Linked DNA regions of Homo sapiens: regions 1, 2, 3, 5, 6 and 7 are each linked to region 4. The links come from fine-mapping of genetic effects on gene expression. A gene starts in region 4. Each other region holds a variant in brackets. All regions are shown on one strand. Distances are from middle to middle. Region 1 overlaps B4GALNT3 (beta-1,4-N-acetyl-galactosaminyltransferase 3). Region 2 overlaps B4GALNT3 (beta-1,4-N-acetyl-galactosaminyltransferase 3). Region 3 overlaps B4GALNT3 (beta-1,4-N-acetyl-galactosaminyltransferase 3). Region 4 holds the start of B4GALNT3 (beta-1,4-N-acetyl-galactosaminyltransferase 3). Region 5 overlaps B4GALNT3 (beta-1,4-N-acetyl-galactosaminyltransferase 3). Region 6 holds the start of LOC124902852 (a long non-coding RNA gene). Region 7 overlaps B4GALNT3 (beta-1,4-N-acetyl-galactosaminyltransferase 3).

Region 1 (4,065 bases), 90 kb before region 4:
CCCCTTAAACATAGCTCGTGGTCACCACCACCAAAGAACTTCTCAATTACACCCCAGCCATTCTCTGACCTGGTGATGCCTCCTGACCTCTTTCTTCTGCCCTCCAGCTCTTCCTTATAATCATCTCTAGATCTGGATGCACAGGAGAGTGGCCACGCTGCCTGTCTGGCTTCCGCATGGGTTCTGGGTTCTTTAAAGCTAACTTCCCCTCCATAGCTCTTTTTCCCCCAGTGCCTGGTCTCTGGGTTTAGTAAGTCCTGCTGGCTCACTAGCTGGCGGGACTGACCAGGCAGGGTAGGGTTGTGTGGCCCTTGGAGCAGGGAGCTTAAGAAGCCTCAGCCAGGCCACCTGATATCATCACGGGGCTGGGCTGAGTTGGTGTGTGTTGGGGGGCCCTGAGGCAGAGCACCCACGTGCAGGCTCTGCTGGACAGTCTATTCAGGGCGGTCCATCTGGGAGTGCAAGTTCTTCCCAGCCCAGGGACCTGTGAGGACGTCCTGTCTGCTGGGATGGGATGTTGGGAAGATGGGAAAGTCAGCCTCACCACCTCCCATCCCAGTCACAGGCAGCAATCCCTCTGCCAGCCCTGCTCTCCATGACCCAGGCCCAAGACTTACAAACCGGAGTCCCTGGTAGCGCTGCAGAGGAAGCCCATCCACCAGATAGCTGGGTTTGTAGGGACAGTCAGGCAGGACGTGGCGGAGATGCGACTTGGGGATCAGAGGCACTGAGGACAGTGGAGGAGGAGGAGTGAGGGTGAGGGTGAGCACGAAACTGGGGCTGAAGTCCTCTGCCCTGAGCAGGGCCCTTTCTGTATTCGCAAGCGGCAGCTGTGTTCTGCCGACGTCTGTGGCTGAGGCTGCCAGCTGGAGGCTGCCCCACGCACCTGGAGCAGGGCCATTTGAGGAGCACCCTGGCAGCAGAGGACTCAGCACACAGCCCCAGGTACAAGGCACCGTTTGATCTTAGAGTCACTGTGCAGGGATAGCCTCAATAAGGTCTAGAAACTTCTAAGAGGCCAGAAGGTCCCCTCCCTCGTACAGTACCGATAACTGGATTTCCTACCATGGGCTGAACATCCCCTTAGCGTCAGTTGTCATTTTTTTGAGAGGGGTGAGGAGTAAAGAAACTTTGTTGTTTTTTTTGTTTGTTTGTTTTTTTTGACAGGATCTCACTCTGTCACCCAGGCTGGAGTGCAGTGGTTCAATCACAGCTCACTGCAGCCTCAACCTCCTGGGCTCAAGCGATCCTCCCACCTCAGCATCCCAAAGTGCCAGGATGACAGGAATGAGCCACCATGCCTGGCCATCTTGGCCGTCTTTTAAAATGTAAACACTCCCAAGAGGAATCATGCATTAAGACTCTAACACTGTGGTGTCCACGTATTTCTCTCCTTGGATGACAAGAGTTGGAATGCAGTAAGAGGCGGGGACGTGTGAGATTGGGAAGGGATGTGTGGGGGACTTCCGGGTTCTAACTCTATTTCTTGTTGTGGGTGGTGGTTCCACAAACGTTCACTCTGTAATGATATGCAGAATTGTAAAATTACACGTAAATATTTTATACTTATTTACATGCTCTCTTTTCTGTATGCATGTTCTATGTTACAAGGACGATAAAAAGTTCTACGGTGATTGGGATACTTGGCAGGTCTCTCAAGCCTTCTCCACCATCAGCAGTGGACCTGGCAGTGCAGTGTCCCCAGAAAGGACGCCAAGCGCTGGCCGAGGCCTTACCTCGATAGAGGGTGTCCCGGGGGTCAGGCCGAAGCATGTCAGCGGGCGGCTGCTCATCCCTGGGAAGAGCGTTGGAGGAGTCCACGTGGCTGGCTGCTGTCTGTGGGATGTGGCCCACCTCATCCATCTGTAGGAACGTCTCATCTGGGCGCAGGGAGGAAAGAAAGCAGGAGGCTGTGTGGCCTGGAGCGCAGCAGCCCACTGCCC[T/C]TGAAGGGGAGGGAAGAGACGCAGAAGGGGCTCCTGACTCCAGCGGCGACGGTGTAGGATGTGCGCAGCCACACTCCCTCTGGCCCCCGCCACAGCGGTGGCTTCACGATTCATCTGCCTTCGGCCCCCTCTGCCAGCCCCACGGCTGACCCACACGACTGTGTTGCGTACTCGGAAAAAGACACCTCTTTCTCAAAATGTGTTACTGCGGACTGCTAGAAATGTGGCATTAAGTACGCCTAATTTATTGAACGCTTACAGAGCACTTAATAATAAGCCAGGCCCTGCTCTAAGAATATCCCAAATATGAACCCTTCTAATCTCCAAAAGCACCACATGCCTTCTGTACTACGATCATTCCCAGTTTACAGATAAGGAACTTTGGCATAGAGAATCTAAGTCATTTGCCCAACATCATACAACAGACGGGTGGCCAAGCTGAGTTTGAAGCCAGGTGATCTAGTTTCAGCATCCAGGTTAAAGCAGCCACAGAGAAGGGGGGTGGGGGGCTGGCTGCTTCTTTGCTCTCTGTCTCCCGGGTTCATGCATCTGTCTACACCTGCCACGGAGGCCTATGGATGGCATGTTTTTCAACGGGGCCTGAGGATGGGAGTCTCACTGAGGAAATGATATGAAATGGAAAATGCCATTGAAGAAAGAGGTCGCTTCCTGTGCACTGAAGGCAGGTGAACAGGTTTCCTCTGCCCTGGCCATGGCTTTGCAAGAACCGTGGTTACCTCATCTGGAAAATAGGGGATTGGACTCGCTCAGAGGGTTTTTTTGTGTTGTTTTGTTTTGCTTTTGAGGCAGCGTCTTGCTCTGTTGCCCAGGCTGGAGCACAGTGACCCAATTACAGCTCACTGTAGCTTCAGCTTCGAACTCCTGGGCTCAAGCGATCCTTCCCAGTAGCTGTGACTACAGGCATGCGCCACCACACCCAGTTAATTTTTTAATTTTTTGTAGAGATGAGGTGTCGCTATGTGGCCTGGGCTGGTCTCGAACTCCTGGGCTCAAGCAATCCTCCTACCTCGGCCTCCCAAAGTGCTGGGATTACAGGTATGAGCCACCGCACCCAGCCTCAGAGTTTTTAGATCTGGTGTGAGCTCACAGTCTCTGGACTCCCTTGAAGTTGTATTCAAAATGTTGTGTGTGGGTGGGTAGACAAGGGCATTTTTCTGAGGCAAGGGCTCAGAGAGCTTCTAGCAGGTTCTCAAAGGGGTCACTGACCCTGGGGAGTTAAGGACTCCTGGTCATAAGGTCCCACTCTTGTTCTGGACCCCTTCATACCCGTGTCCCAAGCATCTCGAGCTTCCTTCCTCCCCTCCTCCCCTCCTCCCCTGCCAAATCCCCCAGGGTAGGCTGTCCCCACCTGGCCTCCATCTCCAGGGCAGGGCCAGAGCCTACTCACTTGTGAAGAGGGACAGGGAGAGGGAGTCAATGATGGTGAACTTGGCTCCAGGGTCGTTCCGTCGCCACTGGAAGAGGAGAGAGAGGGTAGATGCAGAAGGTGGGAGGTAGCTGGATTTCCAACAGGGGTCAAGGGACAAGGGGAGATGAGTGCCAGGAACTGAGCTGGGAGAGGCGGGAGCAGCAGGAAACTCACTGCAACTTCCACGTGGTCGGTGCCCTCCTCATTCTGCTTGTGCAGCACCTCGAAGTAGTACCTGTGGGAGGCTGACAGGCTGGCGGGAGAGAGGGCAGGGAAGCAGAGCGCCATCTCCATGGGCCCTGGGGTCGCGGCTCTGTCCCACCCCCTTCCAGCACCTTACACTCCCTCATCCCTTCTCCTTGCTCTTAGAATGCCAGGAGTTAACTGCCTAGGTTCGAGCCCCCACTCTATCACTTGCTAACAGTGTGAGCTGTTTTCTCTTGGTGAGATGGGCATAATCAGAGTACCTCCTCCACAGGATGATCGGAAGAACCCAAAGAACAGTAACAGAAGCCGTTAGAGCTCAGAGACTGTGGCAGACACTGTTCTAAATGCTTTCAATATGTGACCTCATGTAATCCTTGTTCGTAGAGGAGAACACAGAGGCACAGAAGGCTTGGGTAGTCTGCCAGAGTGATGAGGGGTGGAGGTGGGATTCCGCCGGCCGACTTGCCCCAGGGACCACGCACCAGC
Region 2 (4,063 bases), 96 kb before region 4:
GCACAGCAGAGAGGACCTCCTGTGTCCTCATTCCCGTCCTCCCTGAGGGGCTCACCACCTCATTTACCCCAAATGTCTCTCTACCTCTTAACCAGCCTTGAATTCCATCTCGCAGGCCCCATCCAGGCCCTTTACCTTCACGAGGTCTATGCCAGCCTGAAGTCCAGCTGAGCGTTCAAAGTTTCCACTTAGCTTCACGTACTGGTAGCTGCAGGAAGGGGAGAGAGGGCTGCGTATCAGGACTCAGCTGCGGTGGTCCCCTGGAGGAAGTTGGCAGGCATAGAAGAGAGATGATGTGTGCTCCTGGGATGGGATTATGGGCAGGTGAGCCCTCTGGGAAAAGTTGGAGACTAGGAATCAGGAAGGCTGGGCAGGACTCCTGGCTCTACCCTGGACCCAGCAGCCCTAGGACTTTAGGATGGACGTGGCCCATGCCACCCCCTGGCTGGTGGTCCCCCTCACCTCCGCAGCTTGGACCTCTTCAGTGCCATCTCAACATCCATGTCCTCACTGCTATAGTCAGTGATGACGATGTTGAAGTGTGGGTCACCGGTGACCTGGAACAGGTTTTCCATGTCTTTGATGAATTGCTGTACCCAGCGTGCCTGGTTCTTCACTACCCCAGGGGGTCAGGCAGGAGAAGGAAACACAGACAAGGCAAAGATGAGCGGATGAGCGCCTCCACCCCCAGCTCCCAGGTGAGTCAGGAGTGCCCATCGGACCTCGGCTGAGGGGACAGTGCAACTCTGCAAAACCATTAGCAGTGCAGCACAGAGACATGAGGCAGAGGGAGTGCTCACCAGTTAAGGGGGCCTCTGCATCCTGCTCCCCACGTTCCCTCCTCCCAGGCAGGGGACCCACGAGAAGGCCTTGGCTGGGGCTCATTGTCAGTAGCCCTGCCACGCTCTACTAGTGAAACCCTGTTATCTGTCCCTCTTAGTATCGTCGTCCTATCCCCATCATCCTACCTCTGTTGTTACACTTCTGCCTGTTGTGTGTTCCTCCTTCTCATATAAAACCCTGCTCATCACTTCATTAAGTACGCTGCCCGTCTTACTTCCCCAGACCAATGATCATCCCCAGTGTTAGCAACCCCAGTTATCACACCCAATCCTGAAACCTAGTACGAAAGAAAGAGCACTGGCCTATGAGGCAGTGTTTGTTTTTAGCGGCAACATTTACTAGCCACATAACCTTAAACCAGTGACTTTCCTTTTGTGAGCCTCAGTTTCCTCAACTATAAGGTGGTCTTTCTCAGAAGTGCTTATGGGATCAAATCAGTGCAAGCAGATGTGGGTGCTCCTGACAGTGTGAGGACCCCGCCCCTGAGAATGCCGAGGCTCAGCTTGAGGCTCACCAGGCACGACGAAGTGGACCACGGCTCGGTGACTCCAGGAGAAACCCTGAGGCCAGCACAGCTTGGGCTCTTGGGCCCGGGTATTCAGGACCTGTCTCCTACGGTTGTGTGGGTCCCAGACCAGGCCTTGCAGGTTCCGGGCCTCGACCTCCTCCCCACCAGCTGGATCGATGCCCTGCCAGCCTCGTGCAGACACATACTCCGAGAGCCGCACCACGCGCTGGCCTTGTTCCAACAGTTCAAGCTCCAGGAGGTAGCGACCCCCACGTAGCTGGTCCTGACGCTTTTCCACGTTCACAATGCGCTGTAGCTGGTACCTCCTATGGCAGAAAGTGTGGGGAGGCTGAGTGGTTCCTTTCCACACTGGGAGGGTAGCA[C/T]GGTGTGTGAGAAGCCTGCAAAGCTAGTTGTTGGGAGACCCTGGTTTTTGTCCTAGCTTTGCCACTGGCTGGCTATAGGGCCTCAGGCAAGATTCGCAATCTCTCTAGGGTTCGCTGCCTCCCTCTTTGAAAATGTACCTGTTGAGCTGTGATGATCCTGAAGGTCTTTTACAGCTCCAAGATTCTAAGTACATGAGCTGAATAAGAGGGGTCACACTGAAGAGGTTCCCTGAGAAACTGACCCTCAATAAAAACGGTCGAATCAACATTCCATAAGACAAAATGAGTTATAAGACAGATGTCAATTGGTTGGCTCAAAATCATTAGTCACTAGAGAAATAAAAATCAAAACCACAGTGTGATACCATTTCACACTCACCAGGATGGCTATTTAAAACAAAACACAATGCCAGGTGCAGTGGCTCACACCTGTAATCCCAGCATTTTGGGAGGCCAAGGCAGGTGGATCACAAGGTCAGGAGATCAAGACCAGCCTGGCTAATATGGTGAAACCCTGTCTCTACTAAAAATATAAAAAATTAGCCAGGTGTGGTGGTGGGCACCTGTAGTTCCAGCTACTCAGGAGGCTGAGGCAGGAGAATGGCGTGAACCCGGGAGGCGGAGCTTGCATGAGTCGAGATCGCGCCACTGCACTCCAGCCTGGGCGACAGAGCGAGACTCCGTCTCAAAAAAAAAAATAAATAAAAATAAAAATAAATAAAACACAATGAAATGAAAAGTAACAAGTGTTGATAAGGATGTAGAAAAATTGGAATCTTCATACCCTGCTGATGGGAATGTGAAATGATGCAGTTGATTTAAAAAGCAGAGTGGCAGCTCCTCAACATGCTAAACAGAGTTACCATATGACCCAGAAGTTCTACTCCTAGATATATACCCAAGACAACTGAAAGTATGTTCACATAAAAGCTTGTGCATGAATGTTCATTGCAGCATTTTATTTGTAATAGTCAAAAAGTAGAAACAACCCACATGTCCTTCAACGGATGAATGGAAAAATGTGGTATATCCACACAATAGAATATTACTCAGCAATATCGAGGAATGAAGTGTTTAATAGATTCTACAACACGAATGAAACTTGTGCTAAGTGAATATTCTGCAAAAAGCCCGATATAAAGGCCACACATTACATGGTTCCATTTGCATAAGATGTCCGGAATAGGAAAATCCACAGAGCTAGAAAGGAAAGTAGTTATTGCCAGACACTACTGGGGGTAGGAGGAGGAATGGGAAGTAACCACTAACACATACGGTTTCTTTTTTTTTTTCTTTCTTTTTCTTTTTTTTTGAGACAGAGTCTCACTCTGTCGCCCAGGCTGGAGTGCAATGGTGCGACCTCTGCTCACTACAACCTCCACCTCCCGGGTTCAAGTGATTCTCCTGCTTCAGCCTCCCAAGTAGCTGGGGATACAGGTGCATGCCATCAAGCCCTGCTAATTTTTGTATTTTTATTAGAGATGGGGTTTCACTGTGTTGGTCAAGCTGGTCTCAAACTCCTGACCTCAAGTGATCCACCTACCCCGGTCTCCCAAAGTGTTGGGATTAGAGGCGTGAGCCACTGCGTCTGGCCAGTATAATTTGTTTCAAAGATGATGAAAACGTTCTGGAATTTGACAATGGTGATGCTTGCACAACACTGTAAATATACTTTTTTTTTTTTTTTTTTTTTTTTTTTTGAGACGGAGTCTTGCTCTGTCGCCCAGGCTGGAGTGCAGTGGCGCAATCTCAGCTCACTGCAAGCTCCGCCTCCCGGGTTCACGCCATTCTCCTGCCTCAGCCTCCCGAGTAGCTGGGACTACAGGCGCCCGCCACTATGCCTGGCTAATTTTTTGTATTTTTAGTAGAGACGGGGTTTCACCGTGTTAGCCAGGATGGTCTCGATCTCCTGACCTCGTGATCCGCCCGCCTCGGCCTCCCAAAGTGCTGGGATTACAGGCGTGAGCCACCGCGCCCAGCCTGTAAATATACTTTTAAAACCACTGAAAGGTACACCTTAAAATGGTGATTTTAATGTTATATAAATTTTATCGTAAAAAATGTTGACTGGTTGAATGAATGGATGAATGAAAACACAAAGAACTCCAGTCATGCATCACGCCCTAACCCTTCCAGCCCACATGCAGGGTCTTAATTTGTATTTTTCTAGCCTCTGTTTTGCCTGTTTGTCTATTTACTAGCTCTTTCCTCGGAGGAGGGGACCTCATCTACTGAGTCCTTCCAGTCCTCAACACACGTACTGGGCCAGGCACCCAGGGATTTCAGAACCTTGCCTAATGGCGGGACAAACACCTGCCTGGTCAAGATC
Region 3 (4,065 bases), 21 kb before region 4:
CTTGAACCCAGGAGTTCAAGACCAGCCTGGGCAACACGGTAAGACCCTGTCTCTCCAAAGGGAAAAAAAAAATTAGCTGGATGAGGTGACATCCACCTGTAGTGCCAGCTACTCAGGAGGCTGAAGTGGAAGAATCACTTGAACCCAGGGGGTTAAGGCTGCAGTGAGCCATGATCATGCCACTGCACTCCAGCCTGGGTGACAGAGTGAGATCCTGTCTCCAGAAAAAAAGAGAGAAAAGAAGAATAACACCTGTGTACACTTTCTTTCCTTCTGAAATGGGGTCTCACTATGTTGCCCAGGCTGGAATGTGGTTGCAATTCACAGGCTCTATCATACATCACTTCAGCCTCAAACCCCTGGGCTCAAGTGAACCTCTCACCTTAGCCTCCTGAGTAGCCGGAACTATAGGTGTGTGCCACGGTGCCTGGCTGCATATGCTTAAGAAACAGACACGTTTTGAAGCCCTCTGTGCCTCTCTCCAATCACATCCCCATCTCTCTCACCGGAAATAACGACCTTCCTGAATGGTTTCCTTGGTTTTCTCTTTACCAAATACAGACGAATCCCCACAACTTTTTTCATCATTGTATCCTCCAAATATTGATCTTTATTGGAACTCAATAAATGTTGGATAAATGAAGGGATGACTGTCCTAACAGAACTTAAAACTGGGATTTTGACTTACTAGCTTTTTAACCTTGGACAAGCCTCTTTCAGCCTCAGTTTCCTCATCTGTAAAAGGAGAGCACAGATTCAATGCTCTCTGGGTTCCCTTCCAGCACAGGTCTATGATTAGCCAAGGAGATGTTTCCTGAAGCTTGGACTTGGCATACATGGACTGTGGCAAGCCACTGACGGACGATATCAGAGCTTCCCCACTGGTGTGCTGTGGCTGCTAGTAGGCTCCAAATGGTAACGTGTCCCAAAGTATCAGCCCTCAGTGCTTGGAGCAGCAGAATCTGAGGGCTGGCAACATCCAACCACAAACCTCTTTATACCCCTATGTGTGTTACAAGTATCTTTTCCTGTCATTTTCTCTGTGTACTAACAGGAAGGAGGTTGAGAAGCACTCAATTAGATTATTGGCTCGGGGTTGAGTGGGAGGCTGGATTTAGCCTATAAACCCAGAACGATTTGGGGACACCCTTTTCTTCCTGTTGCCCCTACCTGCCCCATTTCAGAGGCCCACTGACCTACCATCTAAGATGCCGTATCAATGTTTTCTGGTCTACAAAGCCACCTAGAAAGAGGAGATGGAGGACAGAAATATCTTGATGCAAGAGGGAGGAAGGAAGCACCCTCTGTGCAGAGGGACCCTCATCCAGGCTTCCCCACAGCTGAGGCTGAGGCAGGAATATGCCCCCAAGAGCAGACCTGGAGCGCTGTGTCCAGGGCTCCCTGCAGGGCGGCTGAGACTCCCCCCAGCCATCCAGCCCAGCTGCCTGGGCCCAGCCACAGCTGTTGGCAAAGAGTCTCCAGGTCTAAAATTAGCTCCGCTCTCCACCCAGGCAGCTCCACCATGCACTCTGGCAGACAGGGGCCCTGCGGTGAGGTAATGACTGGGGCCTGTCTGCCTGGCCTCAGGACAACACAGGGTTAGGAGAAGGCAGCACAGAGCAAAGTCCCACTTTCCCACCATGGCCAGCCTCAGCTGGGCACTGGAGAAACCACGAGAATCAAGAGTGACTGGATGTGGGCAGCTGGACTCCTGATTTGCTTCTGGTTTTCCTCCATGTCTGCACCCATGGTGCCTACCCCGTCATATCCTAAGGCACACCAAGGAAAGGAAAGCAACCCTTCACTGAGAGCTTGATGTGCTAGCTTTTCAACTTGCTGCCACGGCACTGTGAGGTCAGGGCCATTATTCCCATTACACAGAACGCCACGGGGATGCTCATCCCCTTAGTTGACCTAAGCCAGTGACCCTGGGAGGAAGCATCCAGAGTCCCACCCCTCTTCTTTGGAGGGGAAGTCTGCTTCCTCCAGGGGCACCTCTGGTGAAAGCTCCCTCCCTCCCTGAGGCATGGCCATGACTCACTAACTCCCACCT[C/T]GCCTTCCCTCAGCGTCTGATGGTCTTTGTGGTGGGAGCTGCCAAAATAAGCAGCCAATTCCATGGCCAATCCCTGGGCAGAAATCCCTCCCACCCCTGGGCTAAGCACACAGCAGTGTTTCTGTGTTGGCTGCCGAGCAGGCAGGGAGAGATAGAGGCAAGGCTGAGAGGGACTGGTCCAGTCCTTGGCCTGCAAGGGCAGAGGAGGAGGCTGTGACAAAGATGACCACGGTCACCAGGGCCTGGGGAAGTGCCCCCAAGTCCCTGCGCCTCTCCCGCCAAAGGCTCCCCAGAGATGTCTAAGGACCATCGTCCATGACCCATGCAATTGCACCCCTCCTCACAGCCCCCGCCTATGGAGCCCACCCTTTTATTCTCAGGTGACAGGAGGAGGGGTGAGGACAGCCGCGGTCCCGGAGATAAGGCTGGGCCTGGGTCCCACTCCCCGTCCTGCTTGAACGAGAAGGCGAGGTCACCAATAGGAACCCAGGCATCTCCCCAGGGCTCCTTATCATAGTCTTTCTCCAGCCACGGCCAACTCAGAATCCCCAGTGCTAAGGCCAATGCATTTTCTTTGGGAATAATGTCAGTCAGGGGGACCTCAGGAACCAGGCCGTCAAGCCTTCCGTAATGTCAGGGTCAGAGGGACCTCAGGAACCACACCGTCAAGCCTTCCGTGTTTACGGAAAAGGAAACTGACGTCCGGGGGCAGAGCTGACCTGCTCAAAGTCACAGAGCCAGTTCCCACAGAACCAAGACTGGACCCCACACAGCCTGAATCCCACAAGAGTATTCTTACCCTAACCATATGCTTAAGAGAAAAAGGACTTATGTTTTTTCCTTTTTAATTGGTCAGTTCTGAATAGAACTCCCCATCCTGGCCGGGCGCGGTGGCTCACGCCTGTAATCTCAGCACTTTGGGAGGCCGAGGCGGGCGGATCACGAGGTCAGGAGATCGAGACCATCCTGGCTAACGCAGTGAAACCTTGTCTCTACTAAAAATACAAAAAAATTATCCAGGGGGTGGTGGCGAGCGCCTGTAGTCCCAGCTACTCCGGAGGCTGAGGCAGGAGAATGGCGTGAACCCGGGAGGTGGAGCTTGCAGTGAGCCGAGATGGCGCCACTGCACTCCAGCCTGGGCGACAGAGCGAGACTCCATCTCAAAAAAAAAAAAAAAAGAACTCCCCATCCTGGTTGGTTTTTTTTTAATTGGTCAGTTCTGAATAGAACTCCCCATCCTGGTAACAAACTCCAGGATCCACTGCACTTACATGAGCAAAAACGAGAGAGAAATCACCCGACCACTAAAGGCCTCAGTTGGACACGGTGTTCCCCTCCAGCCTAAATACTCTATGATTCTACAACGTGGCTTCTGCCGTCCTCCTGCTGCGGCACGTCTCAGTTAACACAATTCACCAGTAACTCTCCCTGTTCCTTGGCCAAACGTGCTGGTTTCTTCCCAGGTATCATTCTTCCAGACTTTTTATCTGCACCTGACACAGTTGCTCAACTTCCCCCTTATCGAGAGTCCTTAGAAGTAAGATCCTGTCCCCCATATTTCCCTGACTTCACTTTGTTTCTCTTCTTGGCTGTTAGGTGACCAAAGGTCCCCTAAGTATATCCCCTTTTACTGCTGATGACCAGATTCAAAGTCCTACTGCCCCTACCCAGTTTGGCAGTCCAAGAACAACAGTTCAGGGAAGGGATCTGGGCAGAGTGGGGCAGTGACACCATCAAAGCCACAGCCATCACTGAACACGGTGGCACGTGCTTGTAACCCAGCTACTCTGGCGGCTGAGGTCGGATGATGGCTTGAGCCCAGGAGTTTGACACCAACCTGGGCAACATGGTGAGACCCTGCTTCATTTAAATAATAATAAAAAAAAAGCCACAGCCATGAAACAAAATACCTTCACCAAGAGTCAGGTCACTGCAGAGAGACTCTAGGCTGTCTCCTGTGGCCTGCTGAGCTTCTGAACTCTGCTACATCCCCTACCTGGAGCTGAGTCAGA
Region 4 (4,065 bases):
GATCAGTCTTCGTATCCAGACTGAAAGACACCTTGGAGATCATTTGGACCAAAGGCCTCATTTTCACCTGAGAAGCTGTCGTTTTTCCCTTGATTCCCCCGCTAGTTAGTGGCAGAGCCAGTCTCCTCTAACTCACAGCCGGAATGATTTCCATCACCACAGAAAGGTTAGGCCATAAATATACATTTCCAACCTGAACCAGCTCAGCGACTGTCCCTAGTAATTCTCTCTCTTTGGCCACAAGAGAAGGCACAGCACCACACCCAACTCTGGGTAGAGAAGCTGACACGACGACAGGTCAGAGTCAGAGTATCTTCTCAGCTGCTTGCTCAGCCACTCTGTCCGAGTTTCCCCAAAGCGGGAGGAAAGTGAAGGCATGGGAGGCCACGTGCCAGAACTTTGAACCTCGGCTCCCCGGGCTTGCGTTGGGCACCTGGTAGTAACGGGAGTTTCTCCATTTCTTTTCCCAACTATTACAGGATCTTTTACGGCCCCTGTCACTGTCAGTTTTACTTTGTTAGGCCCATCCACAGTACGTTGAAAACCACCTCGCACAGCCATACCTATTGATGTAAAAAGGCAAAGAGACCACGCTCTCCTGTTTTCCTAGGAGGAAACTGAGGCACGGAAATATTAAGTGGCTTTGGCTAAGTTAAAAACAGAAGTAGGAATCTACCTGCTGCCCGGTCCACTGTGCTGTCCATCATCTCCTTAAACTGGGGAGTTTGGTAGATTTGCTCAGGGTTCAGAAAAGTGGCAGAAGGGGCGGCCCGAACAGGAGAAAGAGGGCGCAGCGAGGAGGTGGGAGATTCAAAGAGCCGAGGACGGAGGCTGGGAGAGGAGCGACGTATGGGAAGCGGGGAAGAGACGGGACTCTCCGAGGTATGGTAAAAAAGAACCCCCCTAGAAGATGCAGCAGGAGAGGAAACGGAGTGAGCCAAACAGAAGGCGGTGGGCAAAGTTTGGGCTGCGCGGACTGGAGCGCGCGCCTGGGTGTGGACGGCCGAGGGCATCCCGCACCCGAATCCCTAGCTCGCGCGTGGACCCCACGGACCTCCTCCCCGGGAACCGCAAGCCCGGAGCGGCTGGAGGGGCCCGGTCTCCGCCAGCGTCTCGGCGGGACGGGCGGGGAGCCTCTCTCCGGGTCGCTCTCCGAGGGGAGACGCGAGGAGCCCCCAGGGTGCCCCGGACCCACGTGGCCGGCGGGCAGGCCCGGGCTCGGGAATTCTGCGCTCGGCCCCGCGGCTTCCCCCGCCCGCAGCTCTCCCCGAGTACGCGCGGGGCGACGCCGGGCACCTGAGGGAGAAATGGGTGGGAAATCGGGTCTGAGGATGGGATGAGAGGCGGGTCCCCCCAACGCAGGAGCCGCCGCCGCCGCCCACCCCCGCGCCCTTCGCCTCCCCTGGGTGCTACTTACTCCGGTTCAGGGGGTTCCCGCCGACCTGGGCCGACGCCACCAGTTCCAGATACAGAGTCCAGAGCCCCACAGACACCACGGCGAGCGCCAGCAGCAGCCGGAAGCGCCTCCGCAGCAGCTTCACCGGGCGCAGGAGCAGCGGGGGCCGCGCGGCCCGGGGGCTCCCCATGGCGCTGCGCCGAGGCGGCCGCCGCCAGCGCGGGCTCCAACCCCCCGAGCCGCCGCCCCCCGGCCGGGCCCCGCGCCCAGGGCGCCCCGCGTCCCGGCCCAGCGTCTCAGGGCTGCGCCGAGGCCGTCTCTCCCGGCCGCTCTCCGGCGGGGCTCGGGCTCATGCTCCGGGCGCGAGGGGTCTCCGGGCTGCGCGGGCGCCCAGCAGGTCTCTCCGGGAGCCGAGCCCGGCTCCTCCTCCGCGCGTGTGTTCCGCGCCGGGCTCTCCTCCCCACGCCTCTCCCGTCGCAGGCTCGCTGCCGCCCTCCCTCCCTGCGCGCCCGCCCTCACTCGCTGCCCAGAAGGAGGCTTCCCCGGCGCCCGCCCGCCTGCCTCCGCCCGCGCCCCCGCCAGCCCCGGACCGGGCTCCGGGCTCTGGGCTCTCCTGCTCGCGGAACCTGGCCCGCCCCCGGCCCCGCCCCCGCCCCCGCCCCGGGCACAGGTGGGCTCCGCCCCCGAGAAGCCAGGGACGCGAAGAGGCCATTCGGCTTCCCTAGGGGAGCGAGAGGTGGGGCCAGAGAACTGGTGCCTGGTGCCTCCCCCGACTGGGAACGGGTGGGATGAGGAGGGGGCGAGTGATGATGCGGACTCTGGGTGACCGAGGGAAACCGAGTCACCACCCAGGCGCCTAACGGTGTGGTTTTAGGCAGAAGCGAAGTAGAGGCTGGTTTGGGCGACGCCCAAGGCTTTAGCCTCAGAGCCTTTCGTCGCCAACAGCAACGACCCGACTCCCTGCTTGACGAAACCAGTAGGCGTGAAATATCACGGGAGCCACTGGACGCTTAACGCAGACATAGCTTCGTTTTCCAGTTGAGATTTGAAGACCTTTCTTCCCAGCCTGAACCACATCTCCGAGAGGCGCTGGGGAAGTCGTACAGCCCCCACGGTGAACCCCAGCAAGCAGTTTTCCCCAGACTGGGCTGGAATGGCTGTTTGAAGAGAGTAGGTGTTTGAGGGTTCCGAAAAAGAATTTTAAAAAGAAAAGAAAAGTATTCACTCTTAGAGTTGAAAAGATCAGCAAGATAAGCCAGGCACAGTGGCTCACGGCTGTCGTCCCAGCACTTTGAGAGGCTGAGGCAAGAGGATCTCTTGATCTCTGGAGGTCAAGGCTGCAGTGAGCCGTGATTGCGTCAGTGCACTCCAGCCTGGGCAACACAGCAAGACCCTGTCTCAAAAAAAAAAAAATCAGTATTCCAGTCCTCTGCCTTCAGGCAGGTAAAGCATTATTATCTGATTTAAATTAGATAAAGTATCAAGGGGCAGAATAACTGCCCCAGGTCACTCAGCAAGTTATACTGCAGTTTTCTTTTCCATTATCTCTTCTGGGAAAAATGGTCAGGAGACTATGGGAAAAGTGAAGGATCAAAGTGTTCCTGGACATTTTAAAATCAAATGAATATCACACAAGTACTGTTCCAAGACAGAGGTTCTCACAGAATTGAGAACTATGTTTCCCTTCTCTCTGTTCTCACCTCAGTTGGATATTCAATAGTTTCTACAGGACTTTTCCTAATTAGCCTCCCCAACTCCAAGCTTCCCATCGCATCCTGTCCACTACCACCAGATGGTCTTCATAAAAAGCCAGGCATGGTGACACACACCTGTAGTCCTAACTTACTCGGGAGGCTGAGGTGGGAGGAGTGTAAGGTTGTAGTGAGCCACAATCATGCCACTGCACTCCAGCCTGGGTGACAGAGCAAGACCTTGTCTCAAAAAAAAAAAAAAAAAAAAAAAAATCCCGTATGTAGTCACACACCTGCTCAAAAATATTTAATGGCTTCCAATGCTTATTGATTAAGATACACACTGTAAATCCAGAATTCAGGGCCTTCCAGAACCTTTTCCAACTTTATGTGACCACATGAAACCTGCTCCAGCTAAAACGAGTTTATTCACTACCCTCCAACACATTTTCTTTTCTAGTTGGTCAACTTGTACCCTTTATCCAAGGTCCATTTCAGATTCTATAAAGCTTTCTTGGACCAGCCAAGTCCTAAGCAACTCCTTCCTTTCTGGAGCTTTAGTAGAACTTGCCATCTGTCTCACCATCTGATATGTTGGAACTTACTTGGAGTGTGTGAGTCTTGTTTTCCCAACCTCACTGTAAGGCTTCAAAAATGGGAGCTGCATTTCCAGTGGGTGGTACAATGTCCACTTAGCACTTAGGAAGGTTTGAGGATGGGGGTAGCACTTTGAGCAAACATCTTCCAGAACTTTCACTGCAGTTCTTTAGCAAAAAGGGTGAATCCAAAGGACAATTCTCTAATTGTAGCCCCTGGGAAAGGTCTCTGTGAAGTTCCAAAGCCACAGATTCCTGTACTTCTCATGTTCTTCTTTCTTTCCACAAGTCCAAGATAGGAGCAGCCAGTGTGTGCACGGCCTGTGCAAGCTCGGCTGAGTCAAGTGGGAAGTGACCGGGCCCTGTAAATAGAGTCCCTCTC
Region 5 (4,065 bases), 37 kb before region 4:
CAACACACAGGAATCAGAACAAAACAAAAACAGGAAGTCAACTAGAGATGGGGCCACAGATGGAGTTATTTAAATTAACCGTGGTCCAGAGGGCATCATTCTAGTGCATGGTAGAGGGTTTGGAGCATCCAAAGCCAGCACACAGTGGCCTCTCAGTGAGCTGCTTCTGAAGTGTCTGGGCTCTGGGTGACAACTGGACTTGGGCGGACATGGTGGAGAGGTAGCTGGGGAGGGATAGCATCTCATTCAAAATCACCTCTCAGCGGCAGGAAGAGCCAGTGACAAGGCTGGCTTCATGATACGCAATCAGAAACAGCATCGAATGGAAAGACAGAAAAACAATCTCTCTTCAGGGGCAACTGTGGGGCACTGCCAAGGTACTAGTAAGCCCAGGAGACAGCATGAAGAACTTCGCAACCGACAGGGCAGTGAAGGGGCGTGTGTGTATAAAACTGGAGAAGTAGAGGAAGGTTTGTTTATTGTTTAGTCACTGAATGGGAAATCAGGGGTGGGTTTGGAAGCTGTGGGTGGGGAGGCATCAGAAGAGACTGAGAAATCGAGTGTGTGTCATACCCAGGAGGAGACTTTAGGAATCCAGTGGCTGTAAACAGGCTAGGAAGTGGTTAGGGTAAAGAATCAAAACACTTTCTAGAGTGGCTGTGCTACTGAACAGGAGAGCAACAAAAACAGCCCAGGGATGCAGGGCCTGGGAATGCTGGTGCTGAAAACAAGACAAACAAAATGACTACCTCCTGACTTAGACACAAAGAGCGGGAGGTCAAGCATGAGGAAAAGTGACCACCTGGCTCGGTGCTCAACAACAATGAACAAAGCCGGTTCTCCAGAAAGTTAAACAGAGTTACCACGGGACCCAGGAATTCCGCTCCTGGGTCTATACCCAAAAGAAATGAAAACAGATATTCAAACAAATATTTGTACACCAGTGTTTATAGCAGCATTATTCACAATTGCCAAAGGTGAAAGCAACCCAAATGTCCATTGACAGATGAATGGGTGAACAAAACGTGGCATATCCATACAATGGAATATGATTCAGCCTTAAAAATAAATGAAGGGGCCAGGTGCAGTGGCTCACGCCTGTAATCCCAGCACTTTGGGAGGCCGAGGCGGGCGGTTCACCTGAGTGAGAACAGCCTGACCAACATGGAGAAACCCCGTCTCTACTAAAAATACAAAATTAACCAGGCATGGTGGCACGTGCCTGTAATCCCAGCTACTCAGGAGGCTGAGGCAGGAGAATCGCTTGAACCCGGGAGGCGGAGGTTGCAGTGAGCCGAGATCGCGGCATTGCACTCCAGCCTGGGCAACAAGAGCGAAACTCCGTCTCAAAAAAATAATTAAAAAAATAATAATAATAAATGAAAGCCAGGAGCGATGGCCCACGCCTGTAATCCCAGTACTCTCAGCGGCTGAGGTGGAAGGATCGCTTGAGGCCAGGCGTTTGAGACCAGCCTGAGAAACACAGCAAGAACCCGTCTCTACAAAAAATTGAAAGTGAAGGAAGCTGAGTGGGAGGATCCCTTGAGCCCAGGAATTGGAGGCTGCAGTGAGCCGTGATCTGTACTGCACTCCAGCCTGGGCGGCAGAGCAAGACCCTGTCTCTAAATAAATAGAATAAACGAATGAAGTACTAACATGCTACACATGGATGAATTTTGAAAACGTCATGCTAAGTGAAAGAAGCCACACACAAGACTGGGTAAATCCACAGACGCAGAAGGCAGAATAGAGGTTGCCAGGGTCTGAGGAAGGGGAAGGAGTGACTGCTTAACGCGC[A/G]TGGGCAGAGTCTCCTTTAGGGGTGACGGAAATATTTGGGAACTAGACAGAGGTGACGGTGGTACAACATTGTATATGTACTAAATGCCGCTGAATTGTACACTTTATTTTTTTATTTTTTTTGAGATGGAGTCTTGTTCTGTCACCCAGGCTGGAGTGCAGAGTGCAATATTGGCTCACTGCAACCTCCGCCTCCCAGGTTCAAGCAATTCTCCTGCCTCAGCCTGCCAGGTAGCTGGGATCACAGGTGTGTGCCACCACGCCTGGACAATTTTTGTATTTTTAGTAGATACGGGGTTTCACCATGTTGGCCAGGCTGGTCTTGAACTCCTGACCTCAAGTGATCTGCCCACCTCGGCCTCCCAAAGTGCTGGGACTACATGCATGTGCCACCGCTGAATTGTACCCTTTAAAAGTTAATGTTACATGAAATCCAGCTCAATTTTTTTTTTAAGAGTAAATGAAGACATCCAGGGAGCCCAGGGACCAAGGCTGCTGGATACCAGAAAAGAAAAGTGAGAGCTAGAGATGGACAAGGGACTACATTGCTACCATTTGTTCGCGAATTCCACAGCTCTGGATCTTTTTCTGCCATGATCCTGGACAGGGGACATGGCATGACACATATATGGGCATATTTAGGGTTCTCTGCAACTCTGAAGGAGCTAACAAATTCCAACCTTTTATGTACCCCTCAAGAAAGTGTATTGGAATACAAGGGAGGAGAATGATGTGAATCTGCTTTTATATTTATAGATGTGCACATATAAACACAAATATATACTGTCAATAAAGTTTAATACATGTAAACTTTTCAAATGTATATCATTCATGAACATTGATCTTCTTGTAATTCTTGGTAGCTGAGCACCTGCTGCACTCCTCACACTACCTGCAACACAGCAGAGCTGCAGACCCGGCTTCCATTATTTCATGGGGATACTTTTCTAAATAAAGATAAGAAAGCTACCCAAGGGCCAGACTTACCCCTGAGCCCAGCAGAGTCAGGGCTACCATTAACCCATCCAGTGTCTTTGTGCCTTCCCCTCAGGCACGCAGTTTGGCAAGTGAAGCTCATGCTAGAGTCTGGTCCGCATTCACCCCCTAAGAAGGGAGCATCTCTGCAGTGAACAACCTGCATAGCTGTACACAACAGCCCCAAGCATAGGCCTAGAAACACAGCAGGTACTTCCAAGTGCTGAAAATAGGAGGCAACCTTAGAGGTAATTTTACCTCACCTATTGCATGCCTGAGGTCTAGATGACCCTTTTGTTTCTTACGGTACGTTTGGCGGAGGGTACATTGATCAGCTGAACTAAGGTTTACAAAGAAAGTTAGGGGGACTAAGGGGAAAAAGAACGACCCAAGAATTCAGGAGGAAATGAGAAACCTCAAAGAGAGCAACTGGAAACCCCTCCCCAGGAAACTGAACCCCTAAAGCAAACCCTTTTAGGGGGCAGACCTGAGGTGACTAGGAGCATGGGTTCTGAAGTCAGATAGACCTGGTTTCAAATCCTGGCTGTTACAGTGTGACTGTGTAACTTGAGACAAGTTATTTAACCTTTCTGAGCTTCTGTTTATTTAATCTGTAAAAGAGAAGGAAGCTCTGAGATTGAAATGAGCTGCCACATACAAAGTGCATCCATTGTGCCAGGAACACAGAAAGTGGTCCACACATTCTTATTATTTAATAGTAAAATGCCGGCACTGTGCTTACGCTATGCAGAGCCAGAACAAGAACTCCAGGCCTCCTTTTTATACCCAGGTTTCCTCACTTGTAGCTAAAGGGGTAGAGGCTTTTCACATTTTCAACCTAACGAGTGAAACCTGAGACTAAATCCGGACAATGCTCTCATTAATGATTCTGTTATCAAAGAATACATAAGAATAAAGACTCCCCCCCGCACACATTAGGCCCCAGTCAGCCTTTCCAGTTTACTCCCCCCATCACTGCCTCAGGAGCCTGGTGCTCCAGTTTTTGGTGTGCATTGATTGATAGGGCTGGTGACAAGGGGACAATCTGTGGGTCTTCTCCTACACTCCTGTTCCAATGTCCCAGCGTCCAGTACTACACGGGTCTCTGAGATGGGGAAAACCATATGCTCAGGAAATTCTCCGAAGCCATACAAGTTATACCTGGGTGCTGGCCTCAACACCTTAAGCTATGGTCCCACCCAATCCTGCATGACTACTATGGGATGGTAGAAAATGGAGGAAGAGGGAGGGAGACTCCAGCGCTCATACTCCTGAACTCTTGGCTTCTAAGTT
Region 6 (4,065 bases), 47 kb before region 4:
TGGGTGAAGTGTTGAACATGGGGTTTGGAATAGTGACAAATATTAAGTGAGAGGAATAAGGCCGATCGGAGGCTGTGCCCAATTCTGGGGGACATCTGCAGAGAACCAAACCTCGGGTATAATTTAAACATTAAAAAGCTGTTTTATTGCTTGAGACCATGAGTTTGAGACCAGCCTGGGCAATGTAGTAAGACCCTATCTCTATAACAAATTTTTAAAAATTAGCCAGGCATGGTGGCACACACCTGTAGTCCCAGGCACTCAAGAGCCTGAGGTGGGAAGATTGCTCAAGCCTGGGAGTTCGAAGCTGCAGTAAGCCATGATTGCATCACTGAACTCCAGCTTGGGTGGCCTGGGTGATGGAGCAAGACCCTGTCTAAAAAAAACAAAAGTAAGTTGTTTCAAAATATGCACTGGACCTTCTGAGGTAACAGAGACACCTTGAAGGATCTGGAAGCTTTCTCTTCATTAACGAATATGAATTGGATGTCCCCCTAGGGACAGGTCTGGGCTGGCAGGGCCAGCGGAAAAGACAGTAAGAGAAGACATTCTGTCTCCACTGGCTGTGGGACCTTGGGCCGAGTCATTTTTCAGATCTCTTCCAGTTACAATGGATGATCATGAGAAATTTCTTTCACAGGTTAGTATCAACGCTCTACTCAAGCACTCCTGACAGGTGTCCACCAAGCTACTACTGGATTTCCAGGGGCAGGTGTCCACCAAGCTACTACTGGATTTCCAGGGGCAGGTGTCCACCAAGCTACTACTGGATTTCCAGGGGCAGGTGTCCACCAAGGTACTACTGGATTTCCAGGGGCAGGTGTCCACCAAGCTACTACTGGATTTCCAGGGACAGACGTCCACCAAGCTACTACTGGATTTCCAGGGGCAGGAATGTTCCGCATGCCACAGTCACGGGCCCTACAGCTGGAATGCTGCTACCTAGTGCTTTTCTTTGGTAGGGCCTCCTAGAATAAGCCCTACCCTTTTGTGAGAAAGTGCTTCCACCACAGATGTAAACTCTTGTATGTAAACACAGAGCCACTCGCAGGGCGTAGGGTGTGGGGTGAGGGATGTAGGGTGGAGGGCGTGGGGTGAAGGGTCGCCACAACAGCAGTGCCCCAGGCCACGTGGCTCCTTTTCTCTGAGCTCTGTCAGGTCATTTACATCCATGTTCTCTGTTCCCACAGTGTCCAAATTCCAAGACAGTGGAAGCGTCTGTCTAATCCACCAGACAGCACCCAGGCCCAGTGACACTTCCAGACGGGGGCTCTGTGCCAAGGGCAGTGTAAAATGATGGGGTAAAGCCACTCAACAGAACACTGTGGTGAGTTAAAAGGGTGTGGAAGGCCACACACACTAACCCAGAAAGGTGTTCAAAACATATAGTTATGTGAAAAAAGGTTGCCATATATATCACAAAAGTGACACTATCAAAAAAACGCTTAAATCTGTCATGGCCAGTAGGAACTTAGGGAGACCCAATGACTACAGAGGTCTAGGAACAGAAAAGGGATATCTGAAAGGAATTCAGGATACAGTATGAACTTGAGTTAATAATAACATCCGATATTGGTTCATTAATCATGACAAATGTACCGGGGCTTAATGCAAGATGC[C/T]AATAATAGAGGAAACTGGGTGTGAGCAAAGTGAGAGCTCTCCAGACTACCTTTGCAATGTTGGGTAAATGAAAAACTATTCTAAAATTAAAAATTCATTTAAAAATGCACTTGGCCGGGCACGGTGGCTCACGCCTGTAATCCCAGCACTTCGGGAGGCCGAGGCGGGCGGATCACGAGGTCAGGAGATCGAGACCATCCTGGCTAACACGGTGAAACCCCGTCTCTACTAAAGATACAAAAAATTAGCCGGGCGTGGTGGTATGTGTCTGTAGTCCCAGCTACTCGGGAGGCTGAGGCAGGAGAATGGCGTGAACCCGGGAGGCGGAGCTTGCAGTGAGCCGAGACCGCGCCACTGCACTCCAGCCTGGGTGACAGAGTGAGACTCTGTCTCAAAAAAAATAAATAAAATAAAAAATAAATAAAAATGCACTTGTAAGTATAGGAGCCTCTATGTGTATGTGTACAGGCATCACAGAGGCATAGAAAACACTTAGAAGGCATATTGAATTTTTTATGGTGCTTACTTCTGTGAAAGCACCTTTTAATATTATATACCTTTGAATTTTAAAAAATAGAAATAAAATGTTTTTAAGTAGAAAAAAGAGATGGAAATGAAAATATAGGAAGATAACAGTTTTAAACTTCTCTGTATTTCATTGTCCCTGTGATTGAAAGAGCAGTGGGCTAGAAGTCAGGAGACCAAGGTTTTGGTCCTTGTTCTTTCACTGGCTTTGTGATCCCAGTGACCTCCTGATCCTTGGTTTTCTTAGTTATAAAATGATGATATTTAAGGACCATTGTAAGTGTTACACTCTATGATTTGATAATAAACACACACAAATGAAGAACGATTTTCCTGTTGCTAGCAGATCCATCATGGATGCCTGAAATAATAAAGCCTGCCTAATGAATTTAAAATAGTTCCTAAAAAAAAAAAATCTGAACTGCATAGAATGTTTCAGGGACATACCTATAGGCATACTGTACCTGTGCTGTATTAGAGGGTAAAAAAATGAGACAGACAAATCGGGTTACAATCTGATTTATAAGAAGAGTATCAGCTGATGCTTACCTGGCTCAGATCTATGCAAATGAAAGAAGACAAAAATAGATGGATGGAGTTGCAAATGGCAACTCTCCCACTTGTCACTGATCTAGGGCTCTTCATGGGAGAGGGTTTAAAATCCTTGGTGGGTTCCACAGAGCTTTGTCTCCAGCTCCTCAGTCTCCTCCCCCAACTCCTATCAACCCCAGAAGCAGGATAATTTGAGAGGTAGACCTATTCAGACCCCTATCTCTCTGCAGACAGCAATCCTGGGCCCCAGCAACATGAAACAAGGGTCTTCAGGACACTCTCCCCCATGACAATGAAGTGTGGCAGGGAGACAATACTTCATGCAGTGGGAACATTCTGAAAATGGACAGGAAAGCATGAGAAAGGCCAGAAAATGCAAAAGCCAAACTCAAGGATGGGGCAAATGTTCCCCCAGGCAAATCTCAGCAAGCGCCAATTCTTGATTTCAGGTTTCTCCAAAGCAATTCTCCAATCCAAGATGGATCAGGGTTCAAATGGCTGGGCAGACGGCCCTTCCTTTCCCCTCTGGGCTTAGGGAGTCCAGGGTTGGAGGCTGCAGTGGGAACAGAGGAAAGGGGGCTGCTGTAAGAGCCGCTGATGCTGCTGTCAGTTCTCTGGGCGAGGTTGGCCTGGTGGTCACTGTCCCTCTGCTCTTTCACCAGCTGTTAGTTAATTCTAGGAGGAGAGGGAAGCCCCAAGTTGTCTCAAAACAGAGCTACCAAATAACTAATTAATTCACTCATTACATAGTATAGAACATCTGTTAAAACCTCTGGTGAGGCCAGGCGTGGTGGTTCACGCCTGTACTCCCAGCACGTTGGGAGGCCAAGGCAGGCAGATCACAAGGTCAGGAGATTGAGACCATGTTGGCCAATATGGTGAAACCCTGTCTCTACTAAAAATACAGAAAACATTAGCCAGGCGTGGTGGTGTGCACCTGTAATCCCAGCTACTCGGGAGGCTGAGGCAGGAGGATCGCTTGAACCCAAGAGGCGGAGGTTGCAGTGAGCCGAGATCGCGCCACTGCACTCCATCCTGGGCAACAAGAGCGAAACTCCATCTCAAAAAAAAAAAAACCTGTGATGAATTCTTTTTAAGACTACATTTTCACACAAGGGTTTTTGTGGGGGAGGGCAGAAGGGTTAAGAGACAGAAGGGTTAAGGGAATTAAGGGCAGAAGGGTTCAGAAAGAGAAGATTTGACAACATGGTGATGATAATTAATAACAGTATGTGGGGTTTTTTTGTTTGTTTGTTTTTTTGACAGAATCTCACTCTGTTGCTCAGGCTGGAGTGCAGGGGTGCAATTTAAAGCTCACTGCAGACTCAAATTCCCGGGCTAAAAATTAGCCAGCCATGGTAGCCCGTG
Region 7 (4,065 bases), 59 kb before region 4:
AAAATACCTACTTTAGTTCAGATACTATTAGTCACAATCCCATAAGATAATTTCTACTGATCTACTCTTACCTTTCAGCAATGCAATGAGACATCGGCCGTTATGATGGCCAATTAAACTACTGAGCAGGATTTTTACATCCCATACAGCTCTATGTCTACAGGGAAAAGTATGATAATAGAAAAGTGAGGACCTTACTAAATCAACTGGTTATTTGATGTGTTAATAACCATATTTTCTGAACTCAAAATCAGGATATGTGGTCTGGCTATGGCAATAGAATGTCTGAAATAGTTCATCTCTCCTGGAAAACCAGGCCAGTTACATTGTTTGACACTGTTATCAGTTTCAAAGATCTCTATAGTCCTCAGCCTCACACATTTGCTAAAATCACGGGTCAAAGGACCAGAGGGAACTGCTCTATACAACTCTATCTAACCCATGTATAGCTGGGTCAACAGAGATGTTGCTAAGACGCATGGATAGCTTTAGAGGATAAAAGTTTACTCCAAAACCCTCTATCCCATGTCCTGTCTTGCCCCTAACCCCCAGCAATTTCTCCCACCACTCCCTTTTCCCTGAGCCAGCGCGTCGATCCAGGTCTAACTCCATGCTGGAGGGACATGACAGCTGGCCCGAACCATAAACAGTGAAGTATGAAGTGGAGACAGCAATAGAACCAATGCTAGGTCAAATATATGTTGAAATTCCCCTACACAGAGGACATAACAAGAGGGTAGAAAGCTGAGAATATGAAAGGGACTAACCCGGCCAATGAGAGAGTACTTTCCATGGAAACAACCCAAGGGTTATGGCGAGCGCTGTTGAGGGCTGAGTGAGGAGCTCACCTCTACTCACCTTTTGCTGATGAGACTGCAGTTGCTAAGTTGCTAAGAAACAGCAGTCGCTCAACCTAAATTTGTGTCCCTGATTCGGCTGAAAGAGCCTCAGTGAACCAACACATCAACAAGGTCTGGTGGGAATCAAAGAGAAAATCAAGGATATCTCAGAAGATGAGCTGATAAAAACTGCTTGGGATGGGATGGATGACTCTGATCCTTACCGGAAAAAAAAAAAAAAAAGCAGAAAGGAAAAGAGAGACGCTTTGGGGAAGGAGCCAATACTAGGAGAAAGCTCCAGGATGAAAGGGGAGGGAGCCTTATTGCCACTGAGCCGCGTTCTGCCAGCGGTGAACATTTGAACCCTTCAGATCTGTGCGACTCTCATTTTACCTGCATGATGCTTAAATGGTTTCTGGAACATTCTCCTAGTTGGGGTATTTGTGAAGACAACTGAGGCACAGAGAAGCTGGATTGTTTTTCTTTTGGCTTCTTGAGCATAAACTTTGATATTTAATGACCTGTGATAGCTGCCGGTATCCTAGTAATACATAAAACCCTTGAGAAGCTATTAACTGTTTAGCCTTCCCAGGTCTTAGGGGAATATGTTTTCCATCTTTCAAAGAGCCTGTTGTAGGCAATTTGTAGGGTAAGATGCAAATATTCCCTTGAGTGGGCTGAGGCACTGAGCTAGGTTTCCCTGGAGTTCACCAGCATGTAAAAACAGATACAGGCTTCTCACAAAGACTGCACAGTCTGACATTTATTTT[G/T]AATTGGCTTCTTGGATCAGTTTATTAGAATTCTGATGGTTGCACGAAATGGCTTACAGTGGGAAGGAAGCTTTAAAAGAGACTTTAAAGAAGAAGCCACGTGGGCAGACAACAAGCTAGATTTTCTGAGCATCTATTATGTATATCGTCAGTCCTTGGTATACACAGGTCCCGCAGGTTTCATATCCGTGGATTCAACCAATAGCGATTGAAAATATTCAGAAAAATAAAAATAAAAAATACGATAATAGAAAATACAAGTTAAAAATACACAGCATGACAACTATTTACAATGCTATGTAACTGCAAATGCTATTGCATTGTATTAAGTATTAGAAGTAATCTACAGATGATTTAAAGTATATGGGAGGGGCTGGGCACAGTGCCTCATGCCTGTAATTCTAGTACTCTGAGAGGCTGAGGTGGGAGGATAGCTTAGAGCCCAGGAGTTGGAGACCAGGCTGAGCAACACAACAGACCCCATCTTTACAACAACAACAATTAGCCGGGCATGGTGGCACACGCCTGTGGTCCTAGAGGCTGAGGAGGGAGGACTGCTTGAGTCCCTGAGTTGGAGTCTGCAGTGAGCTATGATCACCACTGCACTCCAGCCTGGGGAACAGAGTGAGACCCAGAGTCTTAAAAAAATCATATGGAAGGATGTATGTAGGTTATATGCAAATACTGCACCATATTTTATATAAGGGACCTGAGTATCCTCGGATTTTGGTATCCATGGGGAATTCTGGAATCAATCCGTCGTGGATACCAAGAGACAACTGCGCATAGCTGCCTTGTTTGGCTCTGAGTGGATGATTGAAGATGGGTAAGAACCACTTTCAGAGCAGAAAGATCTGGAACTGAATTCCCACCCTGCCACTTTTTAGCTTGTGACCTTTGGCAAGTTCCTTAATATCTTAAAGCCCAGTTGTTTCACCCCTCTACCCTCATAATTCAGCTGGAAAGATGAATTAGGTAAATGAATGAATTAATTTCCAATGCACAACAGCCCTGTAAGGTACTATTCTCCCCATTTTCCTAACGATAAAACTGAGGTTTAAAGAGTTTACATGATTTGCCCCAGATCTTAAAAGTAGCTAAACTGGGATTCAAACTAATTCTGTTTGGTTTCAAAGACCTCACTCTTCCCACTACTGCCTGGTTAATTCTCATTCCAATCCTGTGAAGCCAGTATTGTGGAGCCCCACTGGTGAGGAATTGATAAGTCATGGCTGATGGTCCTGCCACGGCCGCTAATGCATGGCTGGACTGGAGTTCACACCCAGCCTGCCTCTCCTATGCTTTCCCCATGGCACAGCCCTGCTTCATGCAGGAAGGATGGGTTTGATAACATGACAAGTACATAACTGAGCACTGAGCAAAGTCTCCTGGAATCCAGAGAGGAGGATCCTGGTGGTCAGGGAAGACATCATGGGGAAGTAGGTCATGAATAGGCATTTTGGGGAAGGTGGAATTGCTGGGTCTGGGAATGTAAATAAATCACTGAAATAAAATAAAACGGAAATAACATCACTGTCCCTAAAGAGACCTAGATTTTACAGGGCCACCTCCAACCCCCTCGCCTCCCACAAGACACCTGTCTTGGGTCCCTGACTGGAACCCAGAAGCTTTGTTTCTAAAATACAAGTAACATATGTTTACCTCCCTCCCCCTAAATCACAGAGTACAGAAGTGTGTCAAGCAGAAGGTTATGATTCCCCTGTAATCCCTGATCTTCTCCCATGGGCTACTCCTTATCCTTTTGCTAAATGCTCCTCATTTTTCCTTTAACCTTTAAACACTGGATTGCTTACCTTAGGGTCAGTCCCCGATATTTGTCTTTGCCATCAACACTGCTGCCTTGCTGATCTCAGCAGGTTTTTTGGGACACCATCTGTACATTGATGACTTCCCTAGCCTTAGCCTGAACTCCCCGCTTATACAGTGAATTTTCTTACTCACTCTCTCACTTGGATACCAAAGGCATCTGAAACTTAACCTAACTCTTGATTTTTCCTCCCAAACCTGCACCTCTCCATCCTGTAAATGACAACTCCAGCCTTCCAACCACCCAGGTCAAAAATCTTCAAACTACTTGATTCCTCTCCCCATATCCAATCCCTCATTGATTCCTCTCCCCATATCCAATCCCTCAGCAAGTCTCATCAGCCATACTTTCAAAAGCCATCCAAAATCTGATGACTTCTCCCTCCTCCGTCTCCACCACTCCAGTCCTAGACATCATCGCTCTTCCAGTCCCCTTGTATCCACCCCTGCACCTATGGTCTAGTAGCCAGAGGAACTCCACCAAAATGTAAGTCAGGCCATGCCAGTCCTTGCTTGGAACCTTCCAGTGACTTCCCAAATCACTCAAATACAATCCAAGATCCTTCTGATGGCCAATGAGTAACGTTTATTGGGGAAAGACCCAGTTTACACTTGTTACCCTGACAATT

The links.
Region 1: its variant is fine-mapped to the expression of B4GALNT3 in whole blood (TOPMed, PIP above 0.99).
Region 2: its variant is fine-mapped to the expression of B4GALNT3 in whole blood (INTERVAL, PIP above 0.99).
Region 3: its variant is fine-mapped to the expression of B4GALNT3 in tibial artery (GTEx, PIP above 0.99). The same link has a PIP of 0.9 or more in ovary.
Region 5: its variant is fine-mapped to the expression of B4GALNT3 in thyroid (GTEx, PIP above 0.99).
Region 6: its variant is fine-mapped to the expression of B4GALNT3 in lung (TOPMed, PIP 0.98).
Region 7: its variant is fine-mapped to the expression of B4GALNT3 in nucleus accumbens (GTEx, PIP above 0.99).

Annotation. Positions count from the first base shown.
Region 1 is chr12:547,584-551,648 of GRCh38, reverse strand. B4GALNT3 (beta-1,4-N-acetyl-galactosaminyltransferase 3) reads right to left here. Exons shown (of 20, transcript NM_173593.4): 8 at 3,547-3,625; 9 at 3,352-3,418; 10 at 1,737-1,880; 11 at 618-727. Among named protein-coding and RNA genes, the nearest start is that of NINJ2-AS1, 81 kb to the left of the region's middle. The variant T/C (reference allele first, on the strand shown) is at 1,944.
Region 2 is chr12:554,161-558,223 of GRCh38, reverse strand. It overlaps B4GALNT3 (beta-1,4-N-acetyl-galactosaminyltransferase 3), which reads right to left. Exons shown (of 20, transcript NM_173593.4): 15 at 1,358-1,677; 16 at 463-616; 17 at 136-208. Among named protein-coding and RNA genes, the nearest start is that of NINJ2-AS1, 75 kb to the left of the region's middle. The variant C/T (reference allele first, on the strand shown) is at 1,735.
Region 3 is chr12:479,082-483,146 of GRCh38, reverse strand. All of the region lies in intron 1 of B4GALNT3 (beta-1,4-N-acetyl-galactosaminyltransferase 3), which reads right to left. Among named protein-coding and RNA genes, the nearest start is that of B4GALNT3, 21 kb to the right of the region's middle. The variant C/T (reference allele first, on the strand shown) is at 2,054.
Region 4 is chr12:457,898-461,962 of GRCh38, reverse strand. B4GALNT3 (beta-1,4-N-acetyl-galactosaminyltransferase 3) reads right to left here and starts at 2,024. Exons shown (of 20, transcript NM_173593.4): 1 at 1,418-2,024. The coding sequence starts at 1,586. RefSeq lists an enhancer at 1,873-2,856.
Region 5 is chr12:494,454-498,518 of GRCh38, reverse strand. All of the region lies in intron 1 of B4GALNT3 (beta-1,4-N-acetyl-galactosaminyltransferase 3), which reads right to left. Among named protein-coding and RNA genes, the nearest start is that of B4GALNT3, 37 kb to the right of the region's middle. The variant A/G (reference allele first, on the strand shown) is at 1,798.
Region 6 is chr12:504,603-508,667 of GRCh38, reverse strand. The region is part of intron 1 of B4GALNT3 (beta-1,4-N-acetyl-galactosaminyltransferase 3); the gene reads right to left. LOC124902852 (a long non-coding RNA gene) reads left to right here and starts at 498. Exons shown (of 3, transcript XR_007063150.1): 1 at 498-676; 2 at 713-820; 3 at 893-943. The variant C/T (reference allele first, on the strand shown) is at 1,620.
Region 7 is chr12:516,615-520,679 of GRCh38, reverse strand. All of the region lies in intron 1 of B4GALNT3 (beta-1,4-N-acetyl-galactosaminyltransferase 3), which reads right to left. Among named protein-coding and RNA genes, the nearest start is that of B4GALNT3, 59 kb to the right of the region's middle. The variant G/T (reference allele first, on the strand shown) is at 1,610.